3 linked regions of the Homo sapiens genome follow. The protein of the gene in region 1 interacts with the protein of each later gene in a pairwise test. Each region holds a gene or a part of one and is shown on either strand. Other genes may lie near its edges.

Evidence for each region. The genes of interacting proteins can lie anywhere in the genome.
Region 2: the proteins of NR1D2 (region 1) and TTC3 interact in a two-hybrid assay, tested with the Homo sapiens proteins (one large-scale study listed by BioGRID and IntAct).
Region 3: the proteins of NR1D2 (region 1) and NBPF19 interact in a two-hybrid assay, tested with the Homo sapiens proteins (one large-scale study listed by BioGRID).

The regions. Positions count from the first base shown.
Region 1 is NC_000003.12:23,965,786-23,969,285, reverse strand, and holds part of NR1D2 (nuclear receptor subfamily 1 group D member 2), read right to left. Parts: intron 1,474-3,500; coding exon 1,263-1,473; intron 1-1,262. UniProt on the Homo sapiens protein: Transcriptional repressor which coordinates circadian rhythm and metabolic pathways in a heme-dependent manner.
Region 2 is NC_000021.9:37,163,754-37,167,253, reverse strand, and holds part of TTC3 (E3 ubiquitin-protein ligase TTC3), read right to left. Parts: intron 3,204-3,500; coding exon 3,039-3,203; intron 1,705-3,038; coding exon 639-1,704; intron 1-638. UniProt on the Homo sapiens protein: E3 ubiquitin-protein ligase which catalyzes the formation of 'Lys-48'-polyubiquitin chains. Mediates the ubiquitination and subsequent degradation of phosphorylated Akt (AKT1, AKT2 and AKT3) in the nucleus.
Region 3 is NC_000001.11:149,516,545-149,520,044, reverse strand, and holds part of NBPF19 (NBPF family member NBPF19), read right to left. Parts: intron 3,482-3,500; coding exon 3,309-3,481; intron 2,590-3,308; coding exon 2,538-2,589; intron 1,936-2,537; coding exon 1,763-1,935; intron 1,054-1,762; coding exon 1,002-1,053; intron 358-1,001; coding exon 185-357; intron 1-184.

The DNA.
Region 1 (3,500 bases):
CACGGAGTCTCGCTCTGTCACCCAAGCTGGAATGCAAGCTGGTGTGATCTCGGCTCACGGCCACCTCTGCCTCCCAGGTTCAAGCGATTCTCCTGCTTCAGCCTCCTGAGTAGCTGGGACTACAGGCACGTGCCACCATGCCCGGCTAATTTTTGTATTTTTAGTAGAGAAGGGGGTTTCACCATGTTGGCCAGGCTGGTCTCAAATTCCTGACCTCAGGTGATCCACCCACCTCAGCCTCCCAAAGTGCTGGGATTACAGGCGTGCACCCCTGGCGCCTGGCCAAGAACTTGTTCTCTTTCAAGAGCTACTAATTTATGGTTTAGCTACATAATCAGAGGCCGTAACTTATAACTCTCACAATGCCTAGCACAGTGCCCTTTACACAGTAGGAAGCAAATGGGAAACAAAGTCATAACCAAATACTAAAAAATTCCCAAATGTTATACAATAAAATGATGCCTAAAAATAGCTGGCACTTACTTAGACATACCCAGGAAAGTACCTCAATTTCCATTTGTTATTGGGAGTAACAATCTCTGCCTTAATGGGTACTGTCAGAAATAACTGTAATATTAATGCAAGATGGCAGGGGCATTGGGAAACATCATAAATGACTCATATAAATAAACATTAGAAACTCAAAAATCTTGCTCACTCATTCAAACAGTGACTGAGTAGCTCTTCTATGCCAGACACCACACTAGGCTCACATGGTACAACCCCTTCCTTTGACAGGATGAGGAAGGAATCCAAGACCCAAAAGAGTAAAGTTACTTACCCAAGTTACCCACATAATTCAATGGCAGAACTGGACTAAAGCCTACAACTAATTCACATTTCTCTGCAACAAACCACACTAATACCTCTTGATACTTTTAATGTTTTCAAGTAACCCACATTGTATTTGAATGGAAACTGAAATTCATATTACAACTACCTACCTGGAGATACATAATGTTCTAACAAATTCATGAAATAAAGATTTAGACTCATAGAAAAATTATGAACAAAAAGCTAAAGACTAACAGTGGTAAACACAAGGCCTAGATGTAAGTATTACTTTATTCCTATAGTACTTTGACATATATTGTTATAACGAAAAAATTAGTTACACAAAAATAACAGGGTCATACAATTTAGCATCTTCCTTAAGGCCTTATTCCCTCTATATAACTTTCTGGAACCCTGTTAACTGCCATCTTCTCCCCAGTTGGTCACTATATGCTAGGTGTGGCACAATTTTGAACCAGCTTGCTTACCTGCAGATACCAGGACAACAGCTGTAAACAAACTCATCTCTTCATCACTAAGTTGGAGGGCATTTAGCTTCTCACTAAATTCAAACATAGAGTTTAGCAGATCCCCTGCTCCCATTGAGTGTAAATCATCCACACTATATTTCTTTCCACTTAAAAAGGTGACAGTACGTTCCTTTGCATCAAATAATGATGCGAACCGTACCATTAAAACCTGGAAAAAGAAAAAGAAATGTATTTGGAGAAGTCTAACAGCAATAATAAAAAAATAACTTAGTATTCAATCAAGTCAGTTATGAATCATCCCACATATAAAAGAAAGTTATAAAAGAAAAACAGGGTATACTTTTACTCAAAACCACTCTATTCTATTCTATTCTATATTCTATATTCTATTCTATTCTATTTTTGACATGGAGTTTCGTTCTTGTGGCCCGAGCTGGAGTGCAATGGCATGATCTTGGCTCACTGCAACCTCCGCCTCCCGGGTTCAAGCATTTCTCCTGCCTCGGCCTCCCAAGTAGCTGGGATTACAGGTGTGCGCCACCACGCCCAACTAATTTTTGCTATTTTTAGTAGAAGCAGGGTTTCACCATGTTAGCAAGGCTGGTCTCAAACTCCTGACCTCAGGTGATCCACCCGCTTCAGCCTCCCAAAGTGCTGGGATTACAGGTGTGAGCCACCATGCCAGATTTTATTTTTTGAGATGGAGTTTTCTTCTTGTCACCCAGGCTGGAGTGCAGTGGCACGATCTCAGCTCACTGCAACCTCTGCCTCCTGGGTTCAAGCGATTCTCCTGCCTCAGCCTCCCAACTAGCTGGGATTACAGGCACACGCCACCACGCCCAGCTGATTTTATTTTTAGTAGAGATGGGGTTTCACCATGTTGACCAGGCTGGTCTCAAACTCGTGACCTTAGGTGATCCACCCATCTCGGCTTCCCAAAGTGCTAGAATTACAGGCATGAGCCACAGCGCCCGGCCTATTTATTTATTTATTTATTGAGACAGGGTCTTGCTCTGTTGCCCAGGCCGGAGATGCAATCACAGCTCACTGCAACCTGAACCTCCCCGGCTCAAGTGATCCTTTCCACCTCAGCCTCCTGAATAGCTGAGAATACAAATACATACCACCACACCCAGCTAATTTTTGTATTTTTTGTAGAGACAGGGTTTCACCATGTTGCCTAGGCTGGTCTCGAACTCCTGGACTCAAGTGATCGGCCTGCCTCGGCCTCCCAAAGTGCTGGGATTACAAGCATGAGCCACTGCACCCGGTCCCAAAACCACTTTCTTAAGACAGATTCTCTACCAAAGCAATAAATACTCCAAGAAGAACATCAAAAGAAATTCTAGCCACTCATGGCAAAGATACTCTGCCACTCTATTAACAAAGATTCTGAAATGCAATATAAAATTAGAGCAAGAAATAGTGCCAGTAAATTTAAAACTGGGCCCTGGCCAAAGGCATTAAAGAATCTCTTTAGGCTGCCAAGTATAACACATGGCCTCTATGCCTTAAGTAAAAAGAGCAAAATTCCAATGCAGCAACACTTCGAAACATCAACACATCAAATGCAGCCAAGGCAAAGGAAGCAGATGAAGTCTAACTGAACTGCTTCAAGAAACCAACACCCAAAGAGACTATCCACAAAGAAAGCTATCACAGTAAGTGTTCTAAGCACCATGTTATAATTGACATCCAAGTTAAATCGGTTAACAATTATATTACTTAGTTATCTCACTCCCTCCGTTATAATAAATCCAGGGAGAAGTGAAAATATAGCCCTGGCTCACTTCTTCCATCCATAAAAGGTTCAAAGATTTGGCCCACCAAACATCAACTTCCTCTCACCACCCCAATCTCAGAGTTGTCCTTAATTAGGTCCCAAGGCATCTCACACCTTGGCAGCAAAAGGGATGCCCTGGGGCAGACAGAAGGTGAAAGACACCTAACTAAGGACCAGGAGAGGCACATCTGTTAAGTTATACAGTAGAGACTACCCCAAGCCCAAGCAGGATACAGTGTTGCAAGAGAAGCGGGACAGAAAAGTAGCCAAGGATCCTGAAGCAAGGTGAAACCAGGAAGAGCTAAGGTGGCACATAAGAAATGTCTGATATATCCCCAAAATATTCTACAGTCTCTCGAAAAACGAAATCACATTCTATTTGCCCTTCTTATTCTGTATCGAATACAGTAAATGCTAGGCTAGGCTTTCAGGAGGTGTCTAACACTGCAGAA
Region 2 (3,500 bases), on another chromosome or scaffold:
GAGAATCTTGATTTCATCTCTTCCTTGTTAGGAAAGAACTCATACACATCCCTCTTGTTTCTACCTGGCTGTCTCTTTTTAACATTCTCATTCCTCCCCTGGTTTGACAGGAGAAGCTGGGCCTGTGTAGGTCAGAGTCTTCCTTTTTCCTTCTCTTTCTGAGGAGCTGCCAGCACATTTTCCCTTCCTCCTTCATGCGCTAAGTCCTATGGGGCAGGCACCCCACGCTGGAAGGCCTCCAGGTGGGCCCTCCTGTAACTGGCAGGTAAGGCACTGTGATGCAGGCTACACTTCCAGCTAGCACTTGAACTTTCCTACAAACAGCCACCTTCTCCTCCAGCACCTTTATTAATTCTTAGGATGACGTTTTGGCTCCACCTGCTGTCTTATTTCTCAATCTGTGTAGAATTTCAGTAGCAAAGATGGGTATTGTTTATTGGACCCAAGCTTCTTTCTGAGAAGATTACCTGTCATGCCTCACAAAAGAGTTCATATTTTAAAAGTATTTTCAGGCAAAAGCTTCAGTAATCATTATAAAGTCAATCAACTTTAAGGATTCTTGCAAATATAACGGCAATGAAAAATGAAAAGGAAAATTTAACTTCAGTATTAAGAAGACTTTTCTATTTAACTCTTACCTGTATGGCAACCATCTGCACGTGTGGAATGTTTGTTACTGCACTGGTGCTTTCTGGAATTACTTCACATTTGTTGTTAGAATTTCCACAGTGCTCATCATTTCTGTTAGACTCACTCAGGACTGTATGAGCATCACCTGTGCTGCAGTGTGACTTTACAGATATTCCCAAAGAGCCCTCAAGGATCTGTGTTTCAGAGGCAATCTGGTGACCAGCAACATTCTCAGCATTCAAATGATGACCCTCAAAATAGGCAGCAGCATTTTTATCTGCTCTGTCATTGGCTACAAAAGACGGCACCACTGGTACTGATCTTGGTAGCTGATATTCAGGAGAAAGGCTGGCCAAGGGTGTATATATGCTGGTGTACTGGGGCAAACCTGGTAACACGTTTATGTATGCTGGCGGTGTCTGGGTGATATCAAATCTCTGGAAAGGAAGATACGTACAGTATCCTGTGACCAAATGGGATTGAGCCCAATAAGTTGGTTTCACATCCTCAAGAACCGGTTTGGGGGAATTACAGGAGACTCGCTTGTAATTTGCATCCTCAGAGCCTGGTTTAGGAGAATTAGAAGAGACCCCTTTGGGTTGCCCATCCTCAGAAACTTGTCTAGAAGAATTGTCGGATACTGGTTTGGCCTTCACATCTTCACAAGCTGGCTTGGGAGAATTTGCAGACACAGGTTTGGGTTTCACATTTTCAAAAGCTGGTGCTGAAGATGAATCTGACACTGGTTTAGACTTTACATCTGGTTTAAATTCCCTAGCAGCTGGATTCAGTTGTAGTTTAACTCGTACATACTCCCCTGCTTTTGAAATTTCTTCTACTTTTGTTTTAATGTTTTTCTTCTTCCTTTTTTTCTTGAGCCGTGATGCAACCTTCTTCAGTGCAATACAGTTGTCAATCACAACAAAACGAGGGCATCCCAAGAGAAAAGGTTTTAAACCTCCTGCTTTTTCTAGTATCTGTCGAGTTTCTTCTGGGAAAAACTCATATTCTGCAGAGAACATCTTGTTACTCATGTCCAAGGGACCATGTTCCTCCAAAAACTGAGAGAAGTAACTTGGAAAAAATTTACATTTACATGAGTTACTATAAGGAAGTACTTGAATATGTCTATTTGAAAAAAACTTTTATTCTCCCAAAGGAAAACACTGTTTCACTTTTCACTGATCTCAACCTTTCCTCAACAACAAATATAACAAACATAAGGTTAACTGCAATCAATGATACTATAAAGAAAATTTTGTCTACCTCCTAGAAAATGATCATTTAAAACTTTTCTGGGAGCAGGGGAAAGCAAAAGGAAATCAAAAAGTTATTTCATAACTTTCAACTATGTAATTACATAATTTATTCTAAAAACAACAACAAAAAATTTATTCAGGAAAGATAATAATGCCAATAAGAATTTTAAATAAAAAGAGAAAATCAAATCTCAAAAACAAATCCTATTTGAATTTGCGTACAGTAAATACTGAAAACTACATACTTTAGCTTTACTTTTGGATGCCTGAAGCAAATTCTAGCATACTTTAAGAAATAATAGTATAATTTTACAGTTGTTTCCACACTGTCACCCAAGAGTTCTCTGGAAATATGATTTGCTCAGCATTTCAACTCTAAAGAAAAACCATGAAGAAGGATCTAAGAGCACAGAACTAAATAGGAATGATGCAATACAGGAAAACAGAAGAAAGGGCCATATGGTGGATATGCTACTGACAGGACTTCCAGGAGAAGAGTTGGCTTTTAAATTAATACTCTATTACAGACCTCAGCCCTTGATTTATTTTCTTAAAAGGAAGGCCTCATGCACTATCTAATAACACAAAGCTCAAAATGGTAAGCTATCTGAGATTTTCCTGAATTTTTTACTTGTTTTATCCACCCCACTCAGTATCGACTTAGTAGCTCAAACTGACAAAATCAATAATCATTAGGACTCTAAATTTAATAATTAAAAATCCTCAGGGCGGGGCGAGGTGGCTCATGCCTGTAATCTCACCATTTTGGAAGGCTGAGGCAGGCAGATCACTTGAGGCCAGGAGTTGGAGACCTGCCTGGCCAACATGGTGAAACCCTTCTCTACTAAAAATACAAAAATTAGCCAGGCATGGTGGTGCAAGCCTGTAATCCCAGCTACTCGGGAGGCTGACGCATGACAATCACCTGAACCTGGGAGGCAGAGGTTGTAGTGAGCAGAGATTGCACCACTGCACTCCAGCCTGTGTGACACAGCAAGACTCTGTCTCAAAAAAAAAAAAAAAATCCTAAATTAACTTTGTGTAAAATGTGGCAAAATCTCTAAAAACAGGCACAAATTAAACAACTTCTGATCTTTAATTGGCAGCCTTAGTATAAAATAATGGTTGTAAAAATTTCAACCCACTTACTCATATAGAGTTGAACATTTTTGTTTTGGGTTCATGTCCCATAGCTTCTTATTGCGGACAACATATTCGTTACTGTGTTGGTCATAGAGAGCTTCGAATTCTTCTACATCTTGCCGAAGATGGTCAGGCACTGCAAATGGGCCTGCAGAATCTGAATTTCGATTGCTGGTAAATAACAACAAAAAACACCCAATTTTGTGGATGATAGACCTTTGGTTTATTATTTAACCAGAAGAATGTCTAATTGAAATAAACACAATAATGGCAATATATTACTCAGCTCTATGTTGCAAAAAAATAGCACCAGGGAACTTAGTGTAGAAAAGTTACCCTTCCACAGTTATAGGCGAGAAATATCATATCTGACAATCTAAGTAAGCACTTTCAATTATTTAGTCTTGCTCCAAAGAGCAAAATTCTTAAAACTCCATATTTTTAAAAAAAGTTGCATTAATTATAACT
Region 3 (3,500 bases), on another chromosome or scaffold:
CACTGACCCATCCCTTGTCTGGGCTTCCAGGTAGAACTAGAGTTTCATTCAACCTACATGTGCCTATAGGTCCTCACTGCGGCAACGACATCTCTCAGCTCAGTAATGGCCACTTGGAGCAGGAATATGATCTTTATATGGAAGACTCAGTGGATGCTTATCACCTTCATAGAAAGGTACTCACCTCCCACGTCAAGAGAAAAGCCAACATGTTTTTCCTCCAATGCATAAAAGGAACTTCCATAGGGCTGGCAGGAGTCAGGCTGTTCAAGACAACTGGAAGGAGTTGAATAACATCTATCCAGTGAGTCCTGCAAGACTTCAGGCTCTACTACCTCCAGCAGCTCCCTGCTGAGCCTGGAAAAGGAGGAAAAAGTAAAGAATAAGCCAGGGGAAATCACACACAACAGAGCCCCAACTAGGTTTCATGGGTAGCATAGGGAAGTGGTTAAGAAACTAAAAGGATAGATCCATTAATGAGGTAACAAATTATTGCCTTCATGTTGGGACAGAACAGGGCCAAATGGAAAAGAATGAAAGAGAAAGACAGACACACACACACACACACACACACACACACACACACACACACACACACAGAGAGAGAGAGAGAACGAGCTCAGTGAATTGTCCAGGTGACACACTGATGAGGGAGTAACAGGACACTCTGAGTTAGTGCCCTCAGGACACACAGCATACAGTGATCATGAAAAGACTGTGCTCAATAATTTTCCATAAAATGTGCTCAAGTTTCCATGCAGTCGCCATGAGAATACAGTTTTTGAAGTCTGGTCCACCTACAGTAGGTTAGTAAATGATAAGGGGAGGAAGAAATGGAAACCTAAATATCTACTGCAATGAAAACCAACAGCAATGTTAGTAGGAATAATTCAGGCTTGCTTGAAAAGATGTAATCGATAATGTCAGCCCGCTCTGTTTTCCCTGAACCAGGAGTCTCCAGATGTCAACACAGAAGTAGCTGTTCACAATTGCTCAGTTACCTGGGGCATGGTGGGCCTTGGTCTTCTTCCTCTTCTTGGTCCTTTTTAATTCCTGCAATACATTCAGACAGGGACAGACAAAATAAGCCAATTCACCTACACCCATAACAGTCCACTGTCTAATCCCCACACAGGGATCTCAGGCTCCTCAGCATGAGAACAGGACAATGTGAGAGATATACTTCAGGAGGCCTGAAAGCTGGTCATGATATTCTTTGGTTTGCATCTCAGAACCAAGGGTGAAATATCCCCATTCTGGTAGATCGTTATCCCAAAATCACTTATCCCAAGTTTGTGCAAACAGTTATGCCTTATTGTTCCCATCAGTTCAAAGAAAATGCCCCAGATGATTTCTAGGAGGAAAACTGCAGTATTCAGCCCTGTCTCATCAAATGCCCAGCTCGTTCATGGATGCAAGAATTTTAGACACTGAAATTAGAATGAAGGAGGAAATCCACAAACCCTTGAGTCCAAATCATAGTTCTGTGAATTTTTTACATCTGCCTGGGTCCAATGTGCTGAGAGCGGGCTCAGGTTGCCACAGGCATGGCTGGAGACTAGGAATAGAGCCTTGCTCACTGACCCATTTCATGTCTAGGCTTCCAACTGAGACTACAGTTTCATTACAACCTATATGCGCCCATAGGTCCTGCCTGCGGCAATGACATCTCTCGGGTCAGTAAGGGCCACTTGGAACAGGAATATCACCCCTATCTGGAAGACCAGGTGGAGGCTTATCACCTTCATAGTAAGGTACTCACTGTCCACGTCAAGAGCCAAGCCAAGGTACTGTTCCTCCAATGAGTAAACAGCACTGCTGTAGGGCTGGCCTAAGTCAGGCAGTTCAAGATAACCTGAAGGAGTCGAATAACATCTATCCAGTGAGTCCTGCAAGACTTCAGGCTCTTTCTCATCCAGCAGCTCCCTGCTGAGCCTGGAAAAGTAGGAAAAAGTAAAGAATAAGCCAGGGGGAATCAGAAACCACACAGCCCCAGCTAGATTTCATGGCTAACATAAGGAACTGTTTAAAAAGAAAAAGGACAGATCCATTAATGAGGTAATGAATTATTGCCTTTATGTTGGGATAGACCAGGGCCAGGTAGAAAAGAATGAAAGAGAAAGACAGGGAGAGGGAGAGAGAGAGAGAGAGAGAGGAGAAAGTGAGCTCAGCGAGTTGGCCGGGTGACACACTGATGAAGGGGTCAAAGGACACTCTGAGTTAGTGCCCTCGGGACACACAGCGAACAGTGATCATGAAAAGAGTGGGCTCAATAATTTTCCATAAACTTGCTCAAGATTCCATGCAGTTGCCATACAGCCTTTGAGGTATGGTCAACCTATAGTAAGTTAGTAAATGTTAAGGGGAGGAAGAAATGGAAACCTAAACATCTACTGCAATGAAAACCAACAGCCATGTCAGTAGGAGTAATTCAACCTTCGTTGAAAACATGAAATTGAACACACTCTTGTTTTCCCTGGACCTGGCATCTCCAGGTGTCAACACAGAATTAAGCATCCATAATTGCTCAAAGTTACCTGGGGCATGATGGGTCTTGGTCTTCTTCCACTTCTTGGTACTTTTCAATTTCTGCAATAAGTTCAGACATGGACAGACATATGAAGCTGGTTCTCCTACACACATAACAATCCACTGTCTAATCCTCACACAGGAACTTCAGGCTCCTCAGCATGAGAATAGGACACTGTGAGAGATATTCTTCAGGAGGCCTGAAGGCTGATCACCATAGAGATTCCTTGGTTTTTGTCCCAGAAACTGTGGGTAAAATTCCCTATTCTGGTAGATCGTTATCCCAATATCATTTGTCCCAAGTTTGTGCAAATGGTTATGCCATATTTTTCCAATCGATTTAAAGCAAATACCCCCAAATGGTTGCTAGGAGAAAAACTGCACTATTCAGCCCTGTCTCATCAAATACTCAGATTGTTCATGGTAGCGAGGATTTTAGACGCTGAAATTAGAGTGAAGGATGAAATCTACAAGATCTACAAAATTGAGACAAAATCAGAGTTGTGTGAATTTGTCACATCTGCCCAGGTCCAATGTCATGAGAGTAGGATTAGGGCGCCACAGGCATGGCCTGAGACTAGGGAGAGAGCCTTGCTCACTGACCCATCCCTTGTCTGGGCTGCCAAGTGGAACTAGAGTTTCATTCAACCTACATGTGCCTATAGGTCCTCCCTGTGGCAATGACATCTCTCAGCTCAGTAAGGGCCACTTGCAGTAGGAATATGACCCTAACCAGAAGACTCAGTGGATCCTTATCACCTTCATAGAAAGGTACTCACCATCCATGTCAACAGCCAAGCCAACACACTGTTGCTCCAATATGTAAAAGGCACTTCTGTAGGGCTGGCATGAGTCAGTCAGTTCAAGACAACCTGAAGGAGTTGAATAACATCTATCCAGTGAGTCCTGCAAGACTTCAGGCCCTTTCTCATCCAGCAGCTCCCTGCTGAGCCTGGAAAAGTGGGAAAAAG